Linked DNA regions of Homo sapiens. The protein of the gene in region 1 interacts with the protein of each later gene in a pairwise test. Each region holds a gene or a part of one and is shown on either strand. Other genes may lie near its edges. The genes, in order: VCAN and MMP9.

The links.
Region 2: the proteins of VCAN (region 1) and MMP9 interact in binary tests that used the Homo sapiens proteins (3 or more experiments, as listed by UniProt).

What each region holds. Positions count from the first base shown.
Region 1 is NC_000005.10:83,474,744-83,478,343, forward strand, and holds part of VCAN (versican core protein isoform 1 precursor), read left to right. Parts: intron 1-3,600. UniProt on the Homo sapiens protein: May play a role in intercellular signaling and in connecting cells with the extracellular matrix. May take part in the regulation of cell motility, growth and differentiation. Binds hyaluronic acid.
Region 2 is NC_000020.11:46,006,802-46,010,926, forward strand, and holds the start of MMP9 (matrix metalloproteinase-9 preproprotein), read left to right. Parts: upstream 1-2,106; 5' UTR 2,107-2,125; coding exon 2,126-2,263; intron 2,264-3,064; coding exon 3,065-3,297; intron 3,298-3,681; coding exon 3,682-3,830; intron 3,831-4,120; coding exon 4,121-4,125. UniProt on the Homo sapiens protein: Matrix metalloproteinase that plays an essential role in local proteolysis of the extracellular matrix and in leukocyte migration. Could play a role in bone osteoclastic resorption. Cleaves KiSS1 at a Gly-|-Leu bond.

The DNA.
Region 1 (3,600 bases):
GAGAGCCGAGTGGCCTCGCCCCCAGGATTCGGGGCCGGCTGCTTCTGGAGCTGACCCGAGTTCCATCCAGACAGCGCTGAACACTCTTATTAAAAGGCTATTTAAGTTTTATTTTATTTTATTTTATTTTTGCTTGCTTCTTGGGAGTGGTAGGAGGGGCATCGTGCTTTTGTTTTGAGGCAGGGGAGAGGTTAAAATTTACTCCAAGCAAACTTTTTGTCAGAAAAATGAGACTTTATACCGTATTCCATTTGTTGACTTTTTAAATACATTCAGGTCACTCTAAAGCCCATTCTTAGTCAATTAACAGATTAATTTCGTTCCAGACTGTCATAAAGAGTTCGCCTGGAATGGCAAATACTGCCATTCGACAAGACTAATAGAATTTCATGGGGGCAAACATGGAAGGGCTGCGAGTGTAACTGAGGTTCCTGTGCCTCAATGAGGAACCTTAGCGGGGACCTGGCGGGGACTGGAAGCTCAGCACCTATTTAGGGAGTGACTGAGCTGGAAACCTGGAGAAGCTTGGTGCAGACGAGACGGTGCTTCTTAGAGCTGCATTTTAAGTCCTCCCATTTTGCTGCATATTGGAAGAACTGGATTTTAAAGATCTTTTCCATCACCTCAGATTCTGTAGCTAACAGCCACGTCTTTTTCTTTTTGTCTGCTGAAAGCTGTGACCTAATTGTTTTAAGCACTTCTTGACAATTTCGCCAAACCCATCCTGAAAATATTCACATAAAGTCCTAAAATAGGATGTTGTGAGTGTAATATAAAAATAGGAAGGTACCAATGGAAGCAACAATTAGTGTTCTGAGATAGAAGCGGTTCCCAGTTTGTAACTTGGAAATGTTAAGAGCAGTACATCAGGGAGAAGGTCTCCAAGAGTCTGACTTCTTGTTCTGAGCTCTGAGTAAAGAAAGAAATATGTTAGAATTGTATTGTCTGCCCGCAGTAATATTGTAAAGGGTTCCAATGGATTCCAATGTGATTGAGCAATTACTTCCTCCAGCACCAAGTCCACAGTCCTTAATCTTCTTGTGAGAAGATTAGGTAGGAAGCGGGATGAGATTCAAGACAATCATTTAGGATTTATGTCAGAATTCAAAGTTTTGATTCTTTTGGTAGATAAAAACAGAGTTGGTTTTAAATTGTATTTCCTGCTTTCAAAAAAACGAGGTTTGAAAGGAATCCCCCTAGATTTACATAGGTTTACAGATGTAAGTTTCTTCTTTTTCCCTGTGTTTGCAAACTGGAGGGAGATGCCTTTGATATTCCAGAATACCTGTATCTATACACTTGTAAATTCTGCTAGGAAAGGACCTAAACAGCTAAACCAAAGGTGACCATGATTAATGTTAAAGATACTACCCATTGTTCTCTCTTTTGTTGTATTATTAGGCTTAAATACTTTGGAGTTAATGATTGGTCACTTAATTGAGTAACAGAGCCTTTGAGAGCGCAAAGATCAACTAACTCTGTCTCCCAAAGTCTGGCAACTAAGCCCTCCTTTCCTGGTGAGATTTAAACATTTTTGTTGACGTCATTCATGGACAAACATCGGTAAACACTGTATTTAAAATGGGATATTGCCCTGTGATGGAGCAGAACTTCTCAAGACACATGGTTCTTTTGAAAGAAAGAATTAATGACTGTAGTAAGGTATTTTTTCACCACCCACGTAGAGAAACCAGTTAGGACTGACAAACACTCATTGTTGGGAGTTACTTGCTCTGGTCTGAGAAAATATGCTGATTGTTACATAGGTCTGTATTTTACCAGAAAACACAAAGCATGTACTCTCCCTGATTTGGAATCAGAAAAGGGGGATTAGATATGGATGTCTTGGCCAAGCTCCATTTCAATTAGTGAATTTTTGCCAGTTTCCTCTTGTAGCCTAGACTTGGTAAATTACATATATATAAAGTCTGTGTGTGTGTGGGGGGTGCGTGTGTGTGTGTATGTATACAGGGTTTTTAAACACTGCTAAGTTCTTACCATTGAATGTGTTAGAGGTGGTTGTATTTCAGAGGTCAGTACAGAGAATCTTTGTTTAATGTGTCAGTTCTGTTTCCTGAAACACACCTCTGGGTAGATTTACCAACTATAAAAGGATACAAATGTATATACTTTCCACATCTGTATACATCCTACCTCATTCTTCTAAGGATTTTAAGAGGTGTTTATGTCTATAAAATGAGATTACATATTTTACAATAAACATATTTGATAAATTATAATCTTTTTATTATTAAATTATTGATTTGATATTACTTGAGGTATAGTGGAATGAGCACTAGACTTGGAATCAGAAAGTTTGAGTTGGACTCACTAGCTGAGAAAACCAAGCAAAGATATTACTTTTGGACCTTTAGTGTCATAATCTATTAAATGAATATGCAGTTATAAAGATCAAAAGAGTAAGTACTTTGAAAAACTATACAAAAAAGGGATGATAATATATTATGTCTTGGGATTCATATTGATCTAATTCTATAATTTTAATAATAACTGCATTACCCAAGCCATGTAGTTTCTACTGAATCTATAAAATAAATCAGAGAGGGGCATATTGTTTTAAAAATTGTTTAGTTTCATTAATCAGAAGACAGGTTACAGAAATTGACTCCAATGAAGTTGGACATTCAGTGGAAAGGAAGAATTATTCAATAAATGGTTTCAGGACAATTGATGGGTCCATGCAAAATAAGAATCAGTCTCTACCTGATTTCTCATCCTAAAAGAAATATAAGATGAATCAAATATGAAATGTAGGGAATAACTTTTTACAAAATGATAAAAGAAAATCATGGGATTAAAAAAAATAAGTTAGGAATAGAGAAACCTGTTCTAAGCAAAACATAAAACCCAGTGCCATTCTAGGAAATACTGATAGGTCTGACTAAGTAAAAATTACACAAAAGCAAATAATATATTTGGAAAACATCTACGACATTTGAGAGACAAAAAGCTAATAACTCTTGATATTCCATGGACTTTTATGAATAACTTTGAAAAGTCCACATCTATCAAAATATGAGCAAAAATTATGTACAGGTAGTGGCAGAAAGAGACATAGAGTTTTAAAATTATAGAAAAAATCGCTCAGCCTCATCTGTAATTAAATAAATAGTAATTAAAACACCAATGATATGCTACACCATTTTTTCACCAATCAGAGGAGTAACAAAAAAAAATAATTTTTTTCTTTTTTTTTTTTTTTGAGATGGAGTCTGTTACTCAGGTTGGAGTGCAGTGGCACGATCTCAGCTCACTGCAACCTCCGCCTTCCAGGTTCAAGCAATTCTCCTGTGTCAGCCTCCCTAGTAGCTGGGATTATGGGCACCCACCACCATGCTTGGCTAATTTTCGTGTTTTTAGTAGAGTGGGGTTTCACCATGTTGGCCATGGCAGTTGATCTTGAACTCCTGACCTCAAGTGATTCACCCACCTCAGCCTCCCAAAGTGCTGGGATTACAGGCATGAGCCACTGTGCCTGGCAAAAATAAAATTAAAAAGTTTGATGCAAGTTTGTGTTGGCCAGGTTGTGGAGAAACTGGGTCTCTCATATACTGTTGTATGAAAGTAAATAGGTTCCTC
Region 2 (4,125 bases), on another chromosome or scaffold:
TTAACTCTCTGAGCCTTAGTTTCCCCCTCTGAAAACAGGAGGGATACTCATTAAACTTACCTTACAGGTGGTGAGGATGAAACGAGAGGCTTATAGAGAACTTATTACGGTGCTTGACACAGTAAATCTCAAAAAATGCATTATTATTATTATGGTTCAGAGGTAAAGTGACTTGCCCAAGGTCACATAGCTGGAAAATGGCAGAGCCGGGATGGAAATCCAGGACTTCGTGACTGCAAAGCAGATGTTCATTGGTTAGTGAACTTTAGAACTTCAACTTTTCTGTAAAGGAAGTTAATTATCTCCATCTCACAGTCTCATTTATTAGATAAGCATATAAAATGCCTGGCACATAGTAGGCCCTTTAAATACAGCTTATTGGGCCGGGCGCCATGGCTCATGCCCGTAATCCTAGCACTTTGGGAGGCCAGGTGGGCAGATCACTTGAGTCAGAAGTTCGAAACCAGCCTGGTCAACGTAGTGAAACCCCATCTCTACTAAAAATACAAAAAATTTAGCCAGGCGTGGTGGCGCACGCCTATAATACCAGCTACTCGGGAGGCTGAGGCAGGAGAATTGCTTGAACCCGGGAGGCAGATGTTGCAGTGAGCCGAGATCACGCCACTGCACTCCAGCCTGGGTGACAGAGTGATACTACACCCCCCAAAAATAAAATAAAATAAATAAATACAACTTTTTGAGTTGTTAGCAGGTTTTTCCCAAATAGGGCTTTGAAGAAGGTGAATATAGACCCTGCCCGATGCCGGCTGGCTAGGAAGAAAGGAGTGAGGGAGGCTGCTGGTGTGGGAGGCTTGGGAGGGAGGCTTGGCATAAGTGTGATAATTGGGGCTGGAGATTTGGCTGCATGGAGCAGGGCTGGAGAACTGAAAGGGCTCCTATAGATTATTTTCCCCCATATCCTGCCCCAATTTGCAGTTGAAGAATCCTAAGCTGACAAAGGGGAAGGCATTTACTCCAGGTTACACTGCAGCTTAGAGCCCAATAACCTGGTTTGGTGATTCCAAGTTAGAATCATGGTCTTTTGGCAGGGTCTCGCTCTGTTGCCCAGGCTGGAGTGCAGTGACATAATCATGGCTCACTGTATCCTTGACCTTCTTTCTGGGCTCAAGCAATCCTCCCACCTCGGCCTCCCAAAGTGCTAAGATTACAGGAATGAGCCACCATACCTGGCCCTGAATCTTGGGTCTTGGCCTTAGTAATTAAAACCAATCACCACCATCCGTTGCGGACTTACAACCTACAGTGTTCTAAACATTTTATATGTTTGATCTCATTTAATCCTCACATCAATTTAGGGACAAAGAGCCCCCCACCCCCCGTTTTTTTTTTTACAGCTGAGGAAACACTTCAAAGTGGTAAGACATTTGCCCGAGGTCCTGAAGGAAGAGAGTAAAGCCATGTCTGCTGTTTTCTAGAGGCTGCTACTGTCCCCTTTACTGCCCTGAAGATTCAGCCTGCGGAAGACAGGGGGTTGCCCCAGTGGAATTCCCCAGCCTTGCCTAGCAGAGCCCATTCCTTCCGCCCCCAGATGAAGCAGGGAGAGGAAGCTGAGTCAAAGAAGGCTGTCAGGGAGGGAAAAAGAGGACAGAGCCTGGAGTGTGGGGAGGGGTTTGGGGAGGATATCTGACCTGGGAGGGGGTGTTGCAAAAGGCCAAGGATGGGCCAGGGGGATCATTAGTTTCAGAAAGAAGTCTCAGGGAGTCTTCCATCACTTTCCCTTGGCTGACCACTGGAGGCTTTCAGACCAAGGGATGGGGGATCCCTCCAGCTTCATCCCCCTCCCTCCCTTTCATACAGTTCCCACAAGCTCTGCAGTTTGCAAAACCCTACCCCTCCCCTGAGGGCCTGCGGTTTCCTGCGGGTCTGGGGTCTTGCCTGACTTGGCAGTGGAGACTGCGGGCAGTGGAGAGAGGAGGAGGTGGTGTAAGCCCTTTCTCATGCTGGTGCTGCCACACACACACACACACACACACACACACACACACACACACACACACCCTGACCCCTGAGTCAGCACTTGCCTGTCAAGGAGGGGTGGGGTCACAGGAGCGCCTCCTTAAAGCCCCCACAACAGCAGCTGCAGTCAGACACCTCTGCCCTCACCATGAGCCTCTGGCAGCCCCTGGTCCTGGTGCTCCTGGTGCTGGGCTGCTGCTTTGCTGCCCCCAGACAGCGCCAGTCCACCCTTGTGCTCTTCCCTGGAGACCTGAGAACCAATCTCACCGACAGGCAGCTGGCAGAGGTGGGCAAACACCTAGTCTAGAGTTGGGGAGGGCTGTCCGTGAGGGTGTTGAGTGTCCCAGAGAGGATGCAGGGCCTCAGAGGAGATGCTTTAGGGGTGTGTTGGTGGTGATGGGCGTATCTGAAGAACAGAGGTGTCCAGGGTTAGGCAGTGGGGGGTCTTGTGGAGGCTTTGAGCAGTGATGGCCAGAAATGGGCAATGGGGCTTTCCTAGGTGGGAAATGGGAAATGGTTTGGGGTGGGGGAGGCATTGGAGGGTTCTGGGGTAAGCATAGGCTGGGAGTGAACAGGGGCAAACCTTATGCAGCTGTGGGGTAGAAATGGGCTAGAGGCATCCAGGGGTGAGAAGGAGCTGAGGATGTCTAAGGAGGGGAGATCCCTGGGTGGTCAGAAAGCACTGGTGTCTGGAAAGCATTTAATGCTTTATTAAATGTTAGTCCCTGCTGGGCATGACGGCTCACACTTGTAATCCCAGCACTTTGGGAGGCTGAGGTGGTAGGATCGCTGAAGCTCAGGAGTTTGAGCCCAGCCTAGGCAACATAGTAAGATCCTGTCTCTACAAAAAAATTAAAGAAATAGCCAGGCACAGTGATGTGCACCTGTAGTTCCAGCTATGCAGAAGGCTGAGATGGGAGGATCGCTTGAGTCCAGGAGGTCCAGGCTGCAGTGGGCTGATACCGTCTCTCCGAAAAAGAAAAAGAAAAAAGACTCCCTCCATGAGTGTCTGGAGGGAGTCCTTTGGCCCCAGCTGGGCAGAGAAAGGGGTCAGAGATCTGGCATGTGTGTGTCCCTTCATCCACAGGAATACCTGTACCGCTATGGTTACACTCGGGTGGCAGAGATGCGTGGAGAGTCGAAATCTCTGGGGCCTGCGCTGCTGCTTCTCCAGAAGCAACTGTCCCTGCCCGAGACCGGTGAGCTGGATAGCGCCACGCTGAAGGCCATGCGAACCCCACGGTGCGGGGTCCCAGACCTGGGCAGATTCCAAACCTTTGAGGGCGACCTCAAGTGGCACCACCACAACATCACCTATTGGTGAGCCGGGGCCGTGGGGGCAGCGGGGTGGGGCGGGGAGGCCAGGTCTGGCTCTTGGGCCAGCGGTGAACATGTCCTGTCTTGGACGCGTCCCTGGGTTTCACTATTTAATGTGTGGCCCCTGGGGAGTGTCCCCACCTCTGAGCCTCTGTTTCTCCTTCAGGGAAATGGCTCTTGCAATCCAAGTCCTCCTGCCAGGGCCATTGTGAGGGTCTAAGTAGACAAAAAAAAAAAAAAAAAAAACAGTCTGGAAGCAATTTATAGATGAGAGCGTGGACGGCAGAGAGCATTGTGTATGTTGAAGTCTCTGCGATATGGGGTGTCCCTGCTGCCCCGCTCCAGCCTTTCACTTCTGACCTCCTTCCTCTGGCTCTTACGCTACAGGATCCAAAACTACTCGGAAGACTTGCCGCGGGCGGTGATTGACGACGCCTTTGCCCGCGCCTTCGCACTGTGGAGCGCGGTGACGCCGCTCACCTTCACTCGCGTGTACAGCCGGGACGCAGACATCGTCATCCAGTTTGGTGTCGCGGGTGAGAACGTGAGGAGGGAAAATCCAAGAGACCTGGGCGGGGTCAGGGAAGGGAGGACCACGGAGAGCGTGGAGGCAGCAGTGGCCCCGGCTTCCTCTTGCCTGCCCGCGCTGCCCTGGCTTATACGGCCCCTCCTGCCAGACAGTGCACAGGGCCAGGGCGCCAGGCTGGGAGAGCTTCGCGCAGGCGGGATTTCAGCCCGCACTTATTTCGGAGCCCTTGCCTTGGGCAGCGCACAATCTGCGCAGCAGTACTCGGCTAACCCTCTTCCTCTCGACCTGTTTCTTCAGAGCAC